2 linked regions of the Homo sapiens genome follow. The protein of the gene in region 1 interacts with the protein of each later gene in a pairwise test. Each region holds a gene or a part of one and is shown on either strand. Other genes may lie near its edges.

What was found. The genes of interacting proteins can lie anywhere in the genome.
Region 2: the proteins of TRIM38 (region 1) and PSMA4 interact in binary tests that used the Homo sapiens proteins (3 or more experiments, as listed by UniProt).

Annotation. Positions count from the first base shown.
Region 1 is NC_000006.12:25,957,857-25,965,815, forward strand, and holds the start of TRIM38 (E3 ubiquitin-protein ligase TRIM38), read left to right. Parts: upstream 1-4,945; 5' UTR 4,946-4,999; intron 5,000-5,192; 5' UTR 5,193-5,426; intron 5,427-7,959. UniProt on the Homo sapiens protein: E3 ubiquitin-protein and E3 SUMO-protein ligase that acts as a regulator of innate immunity. Acts as a negative regulator of type I interferon IFN-beta production by catalyzing 'Lys-48'-linked polyubiquitination of AZI2/NAP1, leading to its degradation.
Region 2 is NC_000015.10:78,543,438-78,550,461, forward strand, and holds part of PSMA4 (proteasome subunit alpha type-4), read left to right. Parts: intron 1-752; coding exon 753-830; intron 831-1,431; coding exon 1,432-1,520; intron 1,521-2,196; coding exon 2,197-2,327; intron 2,328-3,137; coding exon 3,138-3,261; intron 3,262-5,352; coding exon 5,353-5,507; 3' UTR 5,508-7,024. UniProt on the Homo sapiens protein: Component of the 20S core proteasome complex involved in the proteolytic degradation of most intracellular proteins. This complex plays numerous essential roles within the cell by associating with different regulatory particles.

The sequences.
Region 1 (7,959 bases):
TCACGCCACTGAACTTCAGCCTGGGCAACACAGCGAGACTGTCTCAAAAAAAAAAAAAAAATGCTAAGACTTACTTTGGGACATCCTTTGTCAGGGTCCATGATTCTGATTAGCTCAAGGCAGGTATTTTTTTTTTTTAATAGAGACAGCATCTTGCTATGTTGGCCAGGCTCGTCTCGAACTCCTGGCCTCCAGTGACTCCCCCCACCTCAGCCTCCCCAAGTGCTGTGATTACAGGTGTGAGCCACCACACCGGTCTGGTTTTTTTTGGTGGTTGTTGTTTTAATCCTATAATCCTGTGTCCTTTCTTCCTACCTCTGAGTAGTGCTTACTCTCTCCCCTTTAGTCATTTGAAAAGTTTATCAGAAAGTGGGTGCAGTTTCAGGCTGGGTACCGTGGCTCATGCCTGTAATCCCAACACTTTGAAATGCTTAGATGGGAGGATCATTTGAACCCAGTTCAAGATTACAGTGAGCTGTGATCGTACCATTGTACTTCAGCCAGGGTGACAGTGCAAGAGCCTGTCTCTAAAAACAAACAAAAAATTGCTTTCACACTGTGATGCTATCACATCTCTCCTAAGCTCTTGTTGGGGCTCAGAAATTGATACCCTAATATATGGCCCTTGGTCATATTGAACTGAAGAAGCCTCAAAGTCTCTCTGACATCCCTGCCACCAACTATCCCTACCAAAACACATCGTGGAATTAAAGTTTCTTTATCTACCTAAGATCCAGACCCACCAAAAAGAGCAATTATTTTTATTTACCCTTCCTGTAAGACCAAGAATGTAACCATGCCCGAACGGACTTTCACAAGATAATGTTCAAGTTAATCTCTGTTCCCTGATCTACTTACTCTCCCTAGTAATGAAAGGAGTTGGCCAGCTTGCTTTAGGCAGACAGTAAGGGAATGGTACCCAGAGAACCTCTGACCTGCCCCACAAGTGCTTACACCGGATGTTTTGTGCAGATAAGGGAACTTGCACAGGGGGCTTGCCTAAACATGCCTGCAGTGGATGATTCCTTTCCTTAACACATGCACAGTTCAGGAAATTAATCAATATGGAGTAGCTCAGTCTAAAGGCCTGCATGCACTGGTAGGACAGGGTGGAGTTGTCAGGAATTTGAGTCTTAAGCCCTAGTATTCAACTGTGAAGAGCAAACCAGAAATCTGCTTTCAGGACCCTTGTCTTTGCTGAGAGCTTTCCTTTCACTTAATAAATTCTACTCCACTCATTCTTTGATGGCTGCATGCCTAATTCTTCCTGGCTGTGAGACAAAAACCCGGACCTAGCTGAGCGAAGGAGCAAAAATCCGCAACAGTAATCCCATCAACAGAGTTTCTCTTCTTCCCCTCCCATAATCTGTTTTGCCAGGATAATATATAAGCTTTTAAGCCCTCTTGGGAAGTGGATAATCATTCTATGGTTCTCCCTGTGTACATGTTAATAAATTTGTGAGTTGATTTTTCAGCAAAGTTTCCCCAGAAGCCAAAGGGGAAATTTCCCTTGGCCCCTCCACTCTCTTTTCCCAGCTCTTCTTTTACTTTCGTTTTTATTTCCTCAGCCCAGTAGGTCACAGCCTTCTTTTTATTTCTTCTCTGTCCAAACCATCAGTATATCCTACAGGTGGGAGAGAAGCAGCTCTCTGGGAAACCAGTAAGCACCATGAGTTCTGATACTTTCTAGTACCATTTGACATATTAACATCCCCGCCACCCCTAATATGTATGGACACGCACACACATACCACATCACATGCATCACACTAACACAAACTATGTATCACATACCACACACAGCACACACAGTACCACATACCCCACACAACACCCACACCACACTACGTGCATCATGCACATATGTGCACACACCTCTTGTGATGTGTGTTTAGTGCAATTCAGAAAGTTACTCTTTGATTTAATGCACATCACTATGCTTAGAAATATTCTAGTTACTGGGATTCATCAGTGAACAATATTGAAAAAAATCCATCCCTTTGCATTCTCATGAGGGAAGCAAACACTAAACAAAATAAATTAGTAAAATATTCAGTGATAAGTGCCATGGGAACAAAATAGATTTGAAAATGTTTGGGAGGGAGAGAGGGGTACACTTGCTAACAAGTGGTCAGGATAGGGTTAGTTGAGAGGCAAAATCTGAAGGAGTTGAGGAAAGGCATTCTAGGAATAGCTGAGTGCTGACTCTTGCCCACAGTGGGAACACACAGTACAGAGCTTCTGAAGGAGACTCTAGTGACCTACTTCCCATTGTGAGTCTTTGGACTCCTATATCCCATAATCACAGGATCAAGCCTAACTTTACATATTAGAGATAATGCATTCCTCCTTGGGGATAGTTCAGGTTGATTTCTCCCTAGGCCTGCCTTTGTCAACATATTCCTGAAGTCTCATCTGCACCCCATCTCTGCTTCTAATATTGGCCACTCTGTGCATGAACCAGCCCCTCCTTCCTGCAATGGGAAACAGGTGTGAGATGGGACAGCTGTCACAATCCGTTTTGCTTTTGTCTTGCTGTTATTATTGGTAATGGTAGTTTGTTTCCTTTTTAGCATTCACTAGCTTCCTTTTCCTGATCCTTTGATAGTGTTACCAGAAAGGGGGTCCCAACCCAGACCCTAAGAGAAGGTTCTTAGATCTCGTGTGAGAAAGAATTTGGGGCAAGTCTACACAGTAAAGTGAAAGCAAGAAAGTAAAGGAATAAAAGAACGGCTACTCTACAGGCAGAGCATCAGCTTCTGGACTAAGGATACTGATATGGTTTGGCTGTGTCCCCACCTAACTCTCATCTTAAATTCCCACATATTGTGGGAGGGACCTGGTGGGAGGTAATTGAATCATGGGGGCAGGTCTTTCCCTGAGTAATTTATACTGCTGTTCTCATGATAGTCAATAAGTTTCATGAGACCTGATGGTTTTATAGAAAGGAATTTCCCTGCACAAGCTCTTTGCCTGCTGCCATCCATGTAAGACCTGACTTGCTCCTCCTTGCCTTCTGCTGTGGTTGTGAGGTCTCCCCAGACACGTGGGACTGTAAGAGCATGAAACATTTTTTCCTGGTATAAATTACTCAGTCTCAGGTATGTCTGGATCAGCAGTGTGAAAATGGACTAATACAGATACTTACAGTTATTTCTTGATTATGTACTAAACAAGGAGTGGATTATTCATATGTTTTCTGGGAAAGATGTGGGCAATTCCCAGAACCAAGCGTTCCTCCCCTTTTTAGACTATATAGGGTAGCTTCCTGACATCGCCATGGTATTTATAAACCACTATGGAGCTGGTGGGAATGCCTTCTAACTTGCTAACACATTATAATTCGTGTATAATGAGCAATGAGAATGACTAGAGGCCACTCTTGTTGCCATCTTGATTTTGGTGGGTTTTGGTCAGCTTCTTTACTGCAACCTGTTTTATCAGCAAGATCTTTATGACCTGTGTCTTGTGCCAACTGCCTATTTCATCCTGTGACTTACAATGCCTAACTTCCTGGGAATGCAGCCCAGTAGGTCTCAGCCTTATTTTACCTAGCCCCCATTCAAAATGGAGTCATTCTGGTTTGAACACCTCTGACAATAGGACAGATCTGGAATGAGCCATGCCTGGGTACAGAGTCACATCCACAACAATGAAAGTTGTAGATATCTGCAAGGACTCATCGTGGGACCAAGGATTCAGGGGCTCATTCTTTCTCCTCTCTCTGTGTGCTGGTTGCCTCAGGAGTAGAATGTCCCATGCTATGCATGGGGTCTGCAACCATCATGCCAGGGCATGATGAATCGTAGGTGGCAAAACAACAGAAGGCTCTGTGAGCACCCAGGAGGGTGCAGTGCTGAAGAGTCTTCTGCTTGGTATAGGAAGAAAGGAACGTGTTTCCCAATCTTGCCTTTATTTTGAGTAGTTGGACCAGAGGGATTGCAGCTGGGCCAAACTCCATGTTCCATTGGCTATCAGGGTCAGCAGGCAGGCCAGGGGCCCAGACAGGCCAGTGGCTCCCAGAATTCAAGTTTAATTTCTCCTCCCACCTGTGTCCTGAGCTCCCCTTACTGGTTCCCTTGGACCACTGCATCTACTTAAGCCAGCATTTATTATGTTGTTATCATAAATGCCTCTTACACCTGAGACTTATAAATGTGACAAGCTCTTATTGTGAGATAGTAATCCATCTTTTTTCCCCATGAAATAATAATTCTAACGGGTGGTGATAGTACTTTTCCTTTCATTTTGAAGTGGAGAAGCTGGAGCTAAGTCATTAAGGACTTGACCCTGGACCCCACAGCCTTTTCTCCACAAAGCACAAAGCAGAGTGATGGTCCCAGGGATCCCACACAGCTCTAAGCTGGGGGCACTCACTGCTGGGCCACTAGTGACTCCCATTTTCTATCCTGGCTGACCCTCGCTATTGAAGAAGATCTGAGTCCTGCAGAAGGACAGCAAGGAGAAAAACAAGACACAGAACGGGACAGAGAAGAATAGAAAGCTGACTCAGATGAATTTTGTGATGCCAATGAGTCCTACTGCTGTTACCACCCCTTTTTCCACCACACCCTTCAGAGCAGTTATAGAACCACAAGCAACCCATAAATAGCAAAAGAAGTAACATCAGCTAGGAAGGCTTAAGGACTCCCAAGGGAGTTGGTGGCAAAAGTAGAAAGATCTCAAATCAGAGTCTGTGAACTGAACCTCTGCAGGCTTCCTGTTTTTAGATACTCTGTGTTGGGGTCACATGATAGTTTACAGGGTTATTAATTGGTTCCTTCTTTTTATTGCTGTAAAAGAAGGATATTTTCTTCCTACGTTTCCCCCTCCTTTACCGGAGAGGCGGAGTGCAAATGATATGAACAACGTCACTAGTTTTCTCCTAAATCTTATGAGCCCCGCCTCCCACAGTAGTTTCACTTCTCAGTTTAATCCGGTCTGAGTTAACTTCCTGACCCAGGAAGTGGCAGCAACAGAGGGGACTAGCAGCGAATATGTAAGTGTCTGAGCAGTGAAGGTTACGGAAAAGGTCCAGGCTAAGGTTTTCTCAGTGGATATGTGAGTGTGTACTGATGGCAAGTGGGGTGGGGAATATATTTCGTGACAGCAGGGCCCCTCCAACTCTGAAAATGGTCAGGACTTTCTTTGTTTTACAGCTCTCACCTCTTTCCTGCTCTTTCTTTCACCAGACTTTACACCAAATCTCAGAAGATTCAGAACTTAGATGAGTGGGGCCCAGGACAGGAACCCTGGAGCCTTGGAAGGAGGGGAGCCCCATCTCCCCAGAAGAGCAGTGACCCCAGCAGAGAGGGGCCTGGTGTATCACTGGAGGAAATAGCCTGCCAAGGAATACACGTCTTCAGAAGAAATTCTGTGTGGCTTCAAGAGACTGATCAAATTGTGAGAGGAAAACAGCCTACCCGGTAATTGTAGTTAAATTACTGTTTTTTATTCTAGGCACTCTTCAAACTTCCTCCTGACTCTGCCCCTGTCCTAGAGGAGCTCCCAGGAGTAGGGGTGTGGGGGCGGGCGGGGGGGAGGGATCGGGGGTACAGGGAGAGCCCAGCTAGGTTCTCAGAAGAGGCAGGCTTTTTCGCTCCTGGTCACTCCTCTGTTGCCTATCCCTGGCCTCCCCCATCTTCTTTCTGCCTTCCCTACCTCCTTGGGTCTGCAAACTCTTTATGTTGCAATCACTCTGAACATGTCTCTTGAGATAGGTCCTGTCCTGGAGAAGAGATAGTAAAAGTAAACTCCCCAGTTCTGCAGGAGCTCTGATCCCATAGAAATAACTGCTCCTCAGGAGCAAACCCTCTGCTCTGCAGCCTTCTTTCCAATTCTTATTCCCTCAGTTTAGGGAGAGGGCACAAAAAGGATAAACCGGTTCTTCTGGTTGTTCTGGTTGCCTTGATTGCTTCCATTATCCTCCTGGTTGGGTCTCTAGCAAGACGTTATTAGCCAGGGAAGTCCCACTTAGGCACCCCTCTCTGCAGAAGAGGTATTCACTATTCTCCTTTCTCTTTCTTTTGCCTATTATACCTCTGCTCCTGAAAGCAAAAACAACAACAACAAAAACACAAACAAAAAACAACCGACCTTATTAACCAGTGTTGGTTGTTGTTCTTTGTGGGGGATGGGGGGGGTCGAGGTGGAGTCAAATTTTATTGTCATGATGGTGTAGGAGCCAAGGGAACACTTCCCCTTTGCCTTCTGAAGTTCACTGAAAAATCGACTCACAAAAGGCAGGCTAATTGGAGAAAAGGCATACAAATTTATTAACAAGTACATGGGCTAGAATCACAGAGTGATTACCCCCTCTGCCAATGGGGGTAGATACTTATATAGCCTTATTTATAAATACTTATGTATAAATACATAAATATAAATATGTATGCATATGTATGTATGTATAAATATGTATGTATACTGTATAAATATGTATGTATAACGTTTATACATGTATACATATTTATTTCAGAGGGGAAGGGTGATATCAGGAGAATATAGGTAATTCTTTGAGGGGCAGTAAATGATTACTAGGGAGAATAAATGAATATTTGGGAGGATGAATGAATGGAGGAACAGAGTTTAACTTGTAAATGGTTCTCTTTGGAAAATGAATGAGCCTGAGAGACAGACATTATTTTGTGAAAGTGTCTGATTAGGTCTGGTTACATTCTTAGTCCTCTTTTCTTCAGTACAAAATGAGATAATAGGGGTTGGAAGGAAAAACAATTGTTCTTCTTGTCTAGTGTGACTGGTCTTTATGTAGATAGGGGAAAAGTCTCTTCCAGCATCTGCTGATCTCTAAGGGCCTTTAATTCAAAATACTCATTATACCAGGGAGTCATATATTGGGGTGAAGCTCCCCATACTCCTTCAATGGAATCTGTCACAGATCACCCAATTGCATAAGTGTTACTACTAATTACAAAGAGTAATTCTGGTACCAATTATTCTTTTTTTTTTTTTTAAGACAGATTCTCGCTCTTTCACCCAGGCTGGAGTGCAGTGGTGTAATCTGGGCTCACTGCAACCTCCCCCTCCGGAGCTCAAGTCATTCTCCTTCCTCAGCCTCCTGAGCAGCTGGGATTACAGGTGTGCACCACCACATCTAGCTAACTTTTTGTATTTTTAGTAGAGATGAGGTTTTGCCATGTTGGTCAGGCTGGTCTCAAACTCCTGACCTCAGGTGATCTGCCCGCCTCGGCTTCCCAAAGTGCTAGGATTACAGGCGTGAGCCACCGTGCTGGCCTGGTAACAATTATTCTTGAAGTTAACTAGAATAGGAAAGAGTTTCACACTCCCTGAGTTCTCTCTTTTACAGCTTTTGTGAGGAAGCCTGCATTGCTTCTCCCAGCACTTGGTCCAAGGTAACTTTCTGTGATAACAGAATGTTGTATATTGAGGCTGTTATGTAGCCACTAGTCACATGCAACTATTAAGCAATCAAAATGTGGCAACTGGAACAGAAAAACTGAATTTTTTCATTTTAATTTTTATTAAGTTAAATTTAAATTCCTACTCATGATAGTGGCTACTGTATTAGCTATACAGCTAGATGTTTGTGTATCCTCTAAATTCCAATGCATTTCTTCTTTCTGGAGAGAAGACTTTAGCTGGACATGGTGGCACATACCTGTAGTCCCAGCCACTCTGCCAGGGTGAGGCAGGAGGATTGCTTAAACCCAGGAGGTCGAGGCTGCAGTGAGCTGTGGTCATGCCACTGCCCTCCACTACAGCCTGGGCAAGAGAGCGAGAACTTGTCTTATAAGAAAAGAAAAAGAGGCTGGGCACGGTGGCTCATGCCTGTAATCCTGGCACTTTGGGAGGCTGAGGCGGGTGGATCACAAGGTCAAGAGATCGAGCCAACCAACATGGTGAAACCCCATCTCTACTAAAAATACAAAAATTAGCTGGGCGTAGTGGTGCACACCTGTAGACCCAGCTACTACTCGG
Region 2 (7,024 bases), on another chromosome or scaffold:
CTAGTAGGAGCCTAGCCCTGTACTTCCTAAGCAGGCTTGTAAACCCTCCTGCCATTGTCCCCTGTCACCTCTGTCAAGCCAGGCCTTAGGAAATGAATATTACTCAAGAGCAGTCTGTCTAGCAAAATCTTTTTTTTTTTTTTTTTTTTGAGACAGATTCTTGCTCTGTCACCCAGGCTGGAGTACGGTGACGCCATCTTGGCTCACTGCAGCTTCTGCCTCCTGGGCTCAAGTGATCCTCCCACCTCAGCCGCCCAAGTAGCTGGGACTATAGGTGCGCACCACCACACCCAGTTAGTTTTTGTATATTTTGTTGAGATGGGATTTTGCCGTATTGCCCAGGCTGTTCTTGATCTCCTGGGCTCAAGCCCTCCATCTACCTCGGCCTCCCAAAGTGCTGGGATTACAGGCGTGAGCCATTGTGGCAAGCCTGTCTTTTTATTCTTTGTTGCTGAATCTTCTTGAGATTACATTAGCTTCTTGGCGTTAATTTTGTTATCCTATTCATAGGTGGTAATGATAAATACATCTATTAAATAACTTAAAGGGTGCATTTGTTTATCTTTCATGTTGAGTGACATCGAGTAAACATCTCCTACAAAGATAAAACTTGTAGGTTTTTTCTGAAGGAAGTAGCTGTTGTGAAGCAAACATAGTGAATTTCTAATAGAAATTAGAATTTTTTAAATACTTATAAACACTCCTTGCAAGCATCTTCCCTGCTTACAGATCAATGTCTTTTTTTCTTCAAGGGACATGGCTTGCAGTGTGGCAGGCATAACTTCTGATGCTAATGTTCTGACTAATGAACTAAGGCTCATTGCTCAAAGGTATGGTCATAAATAGCATAACTGATGATACAGAAATTAGTTTTGATGTTTCTTTTTTTTTTTTTTGAGACAGAGTCTCACTCTGTCACCCAGGCTGGAGTGCAGTGGCACGATCTTGGCTCACTGCAACCTCCGCCTCCCGGGTTCAAGCGATTCTCCTGCCTCAGCCTCCCAAGTAGCTGACCACCACACCGGGTTAATTTTTGTATTTTTAGTAGAGACGGGGTTTCACTGTGTTAGCCAGGATGGTCTCGATTTCCTGACCTCGTGATCCGCCTGCCTTGGCCTCCCAAAGTGCTGGGATTACAGGCATTAGCCACTGCACCTGGCCTAGTTTTGATGTTTCTAAGGAGAGCTCACTTTTGCAAAGATTAAAGTCATTAAAAATCTTTGAATTGAAAATTACAGATTTTTTTCAACCAAACTTACAAAATATTATTTACTATGAGAATATTCAGATGTTGACTTGTTCCCTCCCCTTCAAATTACAAATGACTGTTAGGTTGTCCCCATGGCATAGATTGCTTTTCAGAGAATATTTTCCTTAGAGTCTGTCTGTGTTTTAGAGAAAACTACTAATGTGCCCATCTCTTTATCCTAGGTATTTATTACAGTATCAGGAGCCAATACCTTGTGAGCAGTTGGTTACAGCGCTGTGTGATATCAAACAAGCTTATACACAATTTGGAGGTATTTAATTTTTTTGAAAATTTTATTCGAAAAAGTTAAGACATTTTATGAGTTATAACCCTTTTGAGGTAGTAAAAAATTGAAAATAGACCCTTTGTTTTAAATTAAATTTAATTTTTTTAATTGGCAAATAAGAATTGTACATATTCATGAGGTACATAATGATGTTTCAGTGCACATAATGATCAGATCAGGGTAAATGGCACATTCATCATCTCAAACACTTGTGTTGGGAGCCTTCCATATCCTTCTAGCTATTTGAAACTAATATGTTATGGTTAACTATATTAATCCTACAGTAGTATAGAACACTAGAATTTCATACATTCTTGCTTCATGAATGAACGTGTTCCTCCACCATGTAGATTACCCTCGTTTTATTAATAGGATATTGAAAGTCCAAAACAACATTTTCAAATCTGGAAACTAACTGCTGTTTACATAATAATGAAATTCAGCACTGGTCCTTTGTCTGTTCCCTCTTCTGGCTGTGTCCAAATCGTAGAAACAAAAGTCGAATTTGTAATGGAGCTTATCTATGGTAGCCAGAATACAAAACAGTTTATGAATGCTTAAGTTCACAGAGTAGGGTTTAGCTACCTTCACTGAGCTCAAGTAACTGTAGTGATACTAAATTTAGATTATTGATATGTTTGGCTTTTTTTCTTTGTTAAAGGAAAACGTCCCTTTGGTGTTTCATTGCTGTACATTGGCTGGGATAAGCACTATGGCTTTCAGCTCTATCAGAGTGACCCTAGTGGAAATTACGGGGGATGGAAGGCCACATGCATTGGAAATAATAGCGCTGTGAGTATTTTTGTTGTGCTATAAAATCTAGCAGAATGTCTAATAACTGCCATAATTTTGCCATGGTGATGAATGTAAACAGTATTTTAAGATAGCTGCAACAACCTTAATGTGATATGGAAATATCTGTGATTTCTGTTGGTGACAGCATTGCTGATATAGCTAATATACTGGGGTTCGTTAACTACATTAATAAATGCTAATTTTCAGTTAGGAGTTGTGAAATTAGAAGCTGTGATTTTGTTTCACATCTAGTTTACAGACCCCCTGTATTCTATGACAGACCCCTTGGGAGACTGAGGACCCCAGGTTAAAGACACTCTTTATAGAGCATTAGTACCCCCTCTTCTCACCCCGTGCCGTGTGTGCCCTCCCTGTCATCAAAATTATGTATATGGGCCAGGCATGGTGGCTCATGCCTGTAATCCCAACACTTTGGGAGGCCGAGGCAGGCAAATTGCTCGAGCTCAGGAGTTCGAGACCAGCCTGGGCAACATAGCAGAACCCCATCTCTACAAAAAATACAAAAATTTGCTGGGCGCCATGGCATGTGCCTGTAATCCTAGCTACCCAGGAGGCCAAGGTGGGAGGAGGAGCACCTGAGCCTGGGGAGACTTGAAGATACAGTGAGCTGAGATCATGCCACTACACTCCAGCCTGGGCAACAGAGTGAGCCCCTGTGTCAAAAAAAAAAAAAAAATTGTTTATACTTGTAATGCCAATAATAATTCAGGCATTTTTCTTCTAGACCAATTCATGTTTCTAAAAAATGTAAAAACTTAAAATTCTATGTTGATTCATGTTTTATAGGCAGCTGTGTCAATGTTGAAACAAGACTATAAAGAAGGAGAAATGACCTTGAAGTCAGCACTTGCTTTAGCTATCAAAGTACTAAATAAGACCATGGATGTTAGTAAACTCTCTGCTGAAAAAGGTAATTCATATCCTCTCCTTTAATTCTTTCGACTGAGTGAGGGAAATTAGCAGCTGTTAAGATTTTTTTCTTTTTTTTTTTTTTTTGAGATGGAGTCTCGCTCTGTTGCCAGGCTGGAGTGCAGTGGCGCAATCTCAGCTCACTGCAACCTCCGCCTCCTTGGTTCAAGTGATTCTCCTGCCTCAGCCTGCCGAGTAGCTGGGACTACAGGCTCGCGCCACCATGCCCAGCTAATTTTTGTATTTTTAGTAGAGACGGGGTTTCACCATGTTGGCCAGGCTAGTCATGACCTCCTGACCTCAGGTGATCCTCCCGCTTCAGCCTCTCAAAGTGCTGGGATTACAGGCGTGAGCCATTGCGCCCAGCCAGCAACTGTTAAGATTTTAACATGTCATCCTAGTTCATTGAAACAGCAACCTTACGAATTAGGTGATGTTATCCCTGTCTTCTAACTGAGGACACTAGGGCTTAATGAGGTTAAGTGAGTTGACCAAGATCAACATTGGTAAATTGTGGAGTCACAATCTCACACTGTATTCCAAACTTAAAGGCTTGATACTGAACAATCTCATTACTCACAGATAGACATCCTGCACTGTGCTACTTTTAGTTAACAGTTATCAAGTCTTCTCATCAATGATATCTTTGCTTGTGTGTATATATGATAAAGCATACGTATGTAGTTATATATTTATACATAGGTTTGGTATACTTTACCAGAGATACAACATTTGCGTGGGTTGTGATACCCTCTCCTGTTCTTCTTAATCTACTAATCTCTTATTTTAAGCTCATGTTAGCAATTCCAAATACCTTGTTCAACTTAAGCTATATGACTATATAAAAGAATATTTCAGTCGAGCTTGGTGGCTCATGCCTGTAATCCCAGCACTTTGGGAGGCTGAGGTGGGTGGATCACCTGAGGCCAGGAGTTCCAGATCAGCCTGGCCAACATGGTGAAGCCCCATCTCTACTTAAAATACAAAAATTAGCTAGGCATGGTGGTGCATGCCTATAAATCCCAGCTACTTGGGAGGCTGAGGCAGGAGAATCACTTGAACCTGGGAAGCGGAGGCTGCAGTGAGTTGAGATCATGCCACTGCACTCCAGCGTGGGTGACAGAGAGAGACTCTGTCTCAAAAAAAAAAAGAATATTTCTAAATGTTTTTCAGAAATTGTGGTAAATTAACATGTTGCTTTATGTTAGGACAGTTTAGCTCCTGGTGTTCCTTAGAAAATGCCATTTACGGCCGGGCATATTGGCTCACGCCTGTAATCCCCAGCACTTTGGGAGGCCGAGGTGGGTGGATCACCTGAGGTCAGGAGTTCAAGACCAGGTTGGCCAACATGGTGAAACCCCTGCCTCTACTAAAAATACAAAAAATTAGCCGGGCGTGGTGGTGCGCACCTGTAATCCTGCTACTCAGGAGGCTGAAACAGGAGAATCACCTGAACCCAGGAGGTGGAGGTTGCAGTGAGCCGAGTTTGCGCCATTGCACTCCAGCCTGGGCAACAAGAGCAAAACTCCATCTCAAAAAAAAAAAGAAAAAGAAAATGTCATTTACATGCAGATTGCCCTCTTTTGTCTACTTCCACCCAGTTTCAAGGAAGCACTACTCAGTTTCCCTGGTACAAAAAAATTCCTTCCCCTTTAGGTATCAGTCTGCTTTTCTTGGCCATTTCATGCCTTTTATTTATTTATTTTTTTAAGAGACTTGAAAAGTCCATAAAAAATAAGCTGTTATTACCAGTTGAAGATTCTGGCTGAGCCCTCAGAGGTTCCAACAGTTCCGTCTAATCAGCACAGCTAATAGCAGGCCGGCAATAGCAATTGGTTGATTATACTTTTTCTAAGGGAGTGACAAAATGGCTGAGGAGACGATATTTAAGTAAAAATTATAATTAAAACATTACAAGATCAAAAGTATATTGTTCTCATAAAAGGGAATAATGTTAAGTATAAAACATAGGAGAGTGCTGAACTAACGTTTCAATGATGTGGCGAGCATAAACCATGAGTGCCTATTAAGCTTCTCTGCTAAGTATGCCTGCCTGCCTGCAATACAAATAAATGTATGTGTTTGTTTTTAGTGGAAATTGCAACACTAACAAGAGAGAATGGAAAGACAGTAATCAGAGTTCTCAAACAAAAAGAAGTGGAGCAGTTGATCAAAAAACATGAGGAAGAAGAAGCCAAAGCTGAGCGTGAGAAGAAAGAAAAAGAACAGAAAGAAAAGGATAAATAGAATCAGAGATTTTATTACTCATTTGGGGCACCATTTCAGTGTAAAAGCAGTCCTACTCTTCCACACTAGGAAGGCTTTACTTTTTTTAACTGGTGCAGTGGGAAAATAGGACATTACATACTGAATTGGGTCCTTGTCATTTCTGTCCAATTGAATACTTTATTGTAACGATGATGGTTACCCTTCATGGACGTCTTAATCTTCCACACACATCCCCTTTTTTTGGAATAAAATTTGGAAAATGGAAATGAAGGAATAAATTCTCTGTAGCAGTAATTGTTAAATATACAAAAACTGACAGGGCGATTACTTTTTGCACATTGTGGCTTACAGTCCTTTCACAAAGATGGGCACGTTCCTCAGGCTGGCCAGATTATTCGTCTCTGTCTGCAGGAATTGGTTTGAGAATGAACACGTGAGCTGAACAAAGCCAGAATTGATGTGTGGGTGTGGATCTCGCAGCTAGGACTGAGGCTGCCCACAGGCAGCAGCTCAAGCTGCGCGGAAGATGAGGTGTAGAAGTTAAGGCCACAGAGGAAAAGTGGAACCAAGAGATGAGAACAGTTACGTGTTGGCTGAAGGGAGCTCTGTTGCTGGGGTTTGTTCAACCTGAGTTCCCTTGGCTATCTGTGGCTTCATGACAGAAGTGATACAGGGCAGTGGTACTTAATGCGTAGCCATGGTGCTTTAGCATCACCTATGCAGATTCTGATGTCCCATCCCAGATCTACTGAATTAAAATCTCTGAGGGTGAAACCCAGTAATCTGTTCTAACAAGCTCTGCATGTGATTCTTAGGAATGCTAAGTAAAACTTTAAGAAGTTTTTGTTGCATATTAGAATCACCTAGGAAGCTTTTGCAGCTTGTAAGCATGCTGTATCGATTAACTCAAGCTCTGTGGTGGAACCCAGATATTAACATTGCTTAAACTCTTCAGGTGATTTCCATCAGCTAGGGTGAGTGCATTGAGCCATCATTTACCCTTCTCTCAGCTGTTGTCAACCAAATATGTGCTCCCAGTCTAATTTCTCATTGTAGATTTTCTTAATGCAGCTCCCTGCAGTTTTCTGTATAGGCTAAAGTATTTACAAGCCCTATTTGCAGCACTTTTTTGAACTTCTAAATTATTCTCTTACTCTGTACAGCAGGTTCTCGTTATTTTTGGTAGTTATGTTCTAAAGTCACCACAAAAACTAACAAAATACTGAACTCTTGCACCTAGAGAAAGTACTGGGTTAGGGTCCTACAAGCCACTGGTCACATTTTTATCAACTGATCAGTACATAACCTGTTTTTTGTGTATTTCTACTTAAAGACACCTTTTTAAATGTGTATTGTGGATTCATTAACATAGAACTCAGCCAACAGCTCTTTACGTGAATGTTTTTGTTTTGTTTTGTTTTTTGAGACTGGGTCTTGCTCTGTCACCCAGGCTGGAGTGCAGTGGCGTGATCATATTTCACTGCAGGCTCAAACGGTCTTCCTGCCTTGACCTCCCAAAGTGTTGACATCACAGC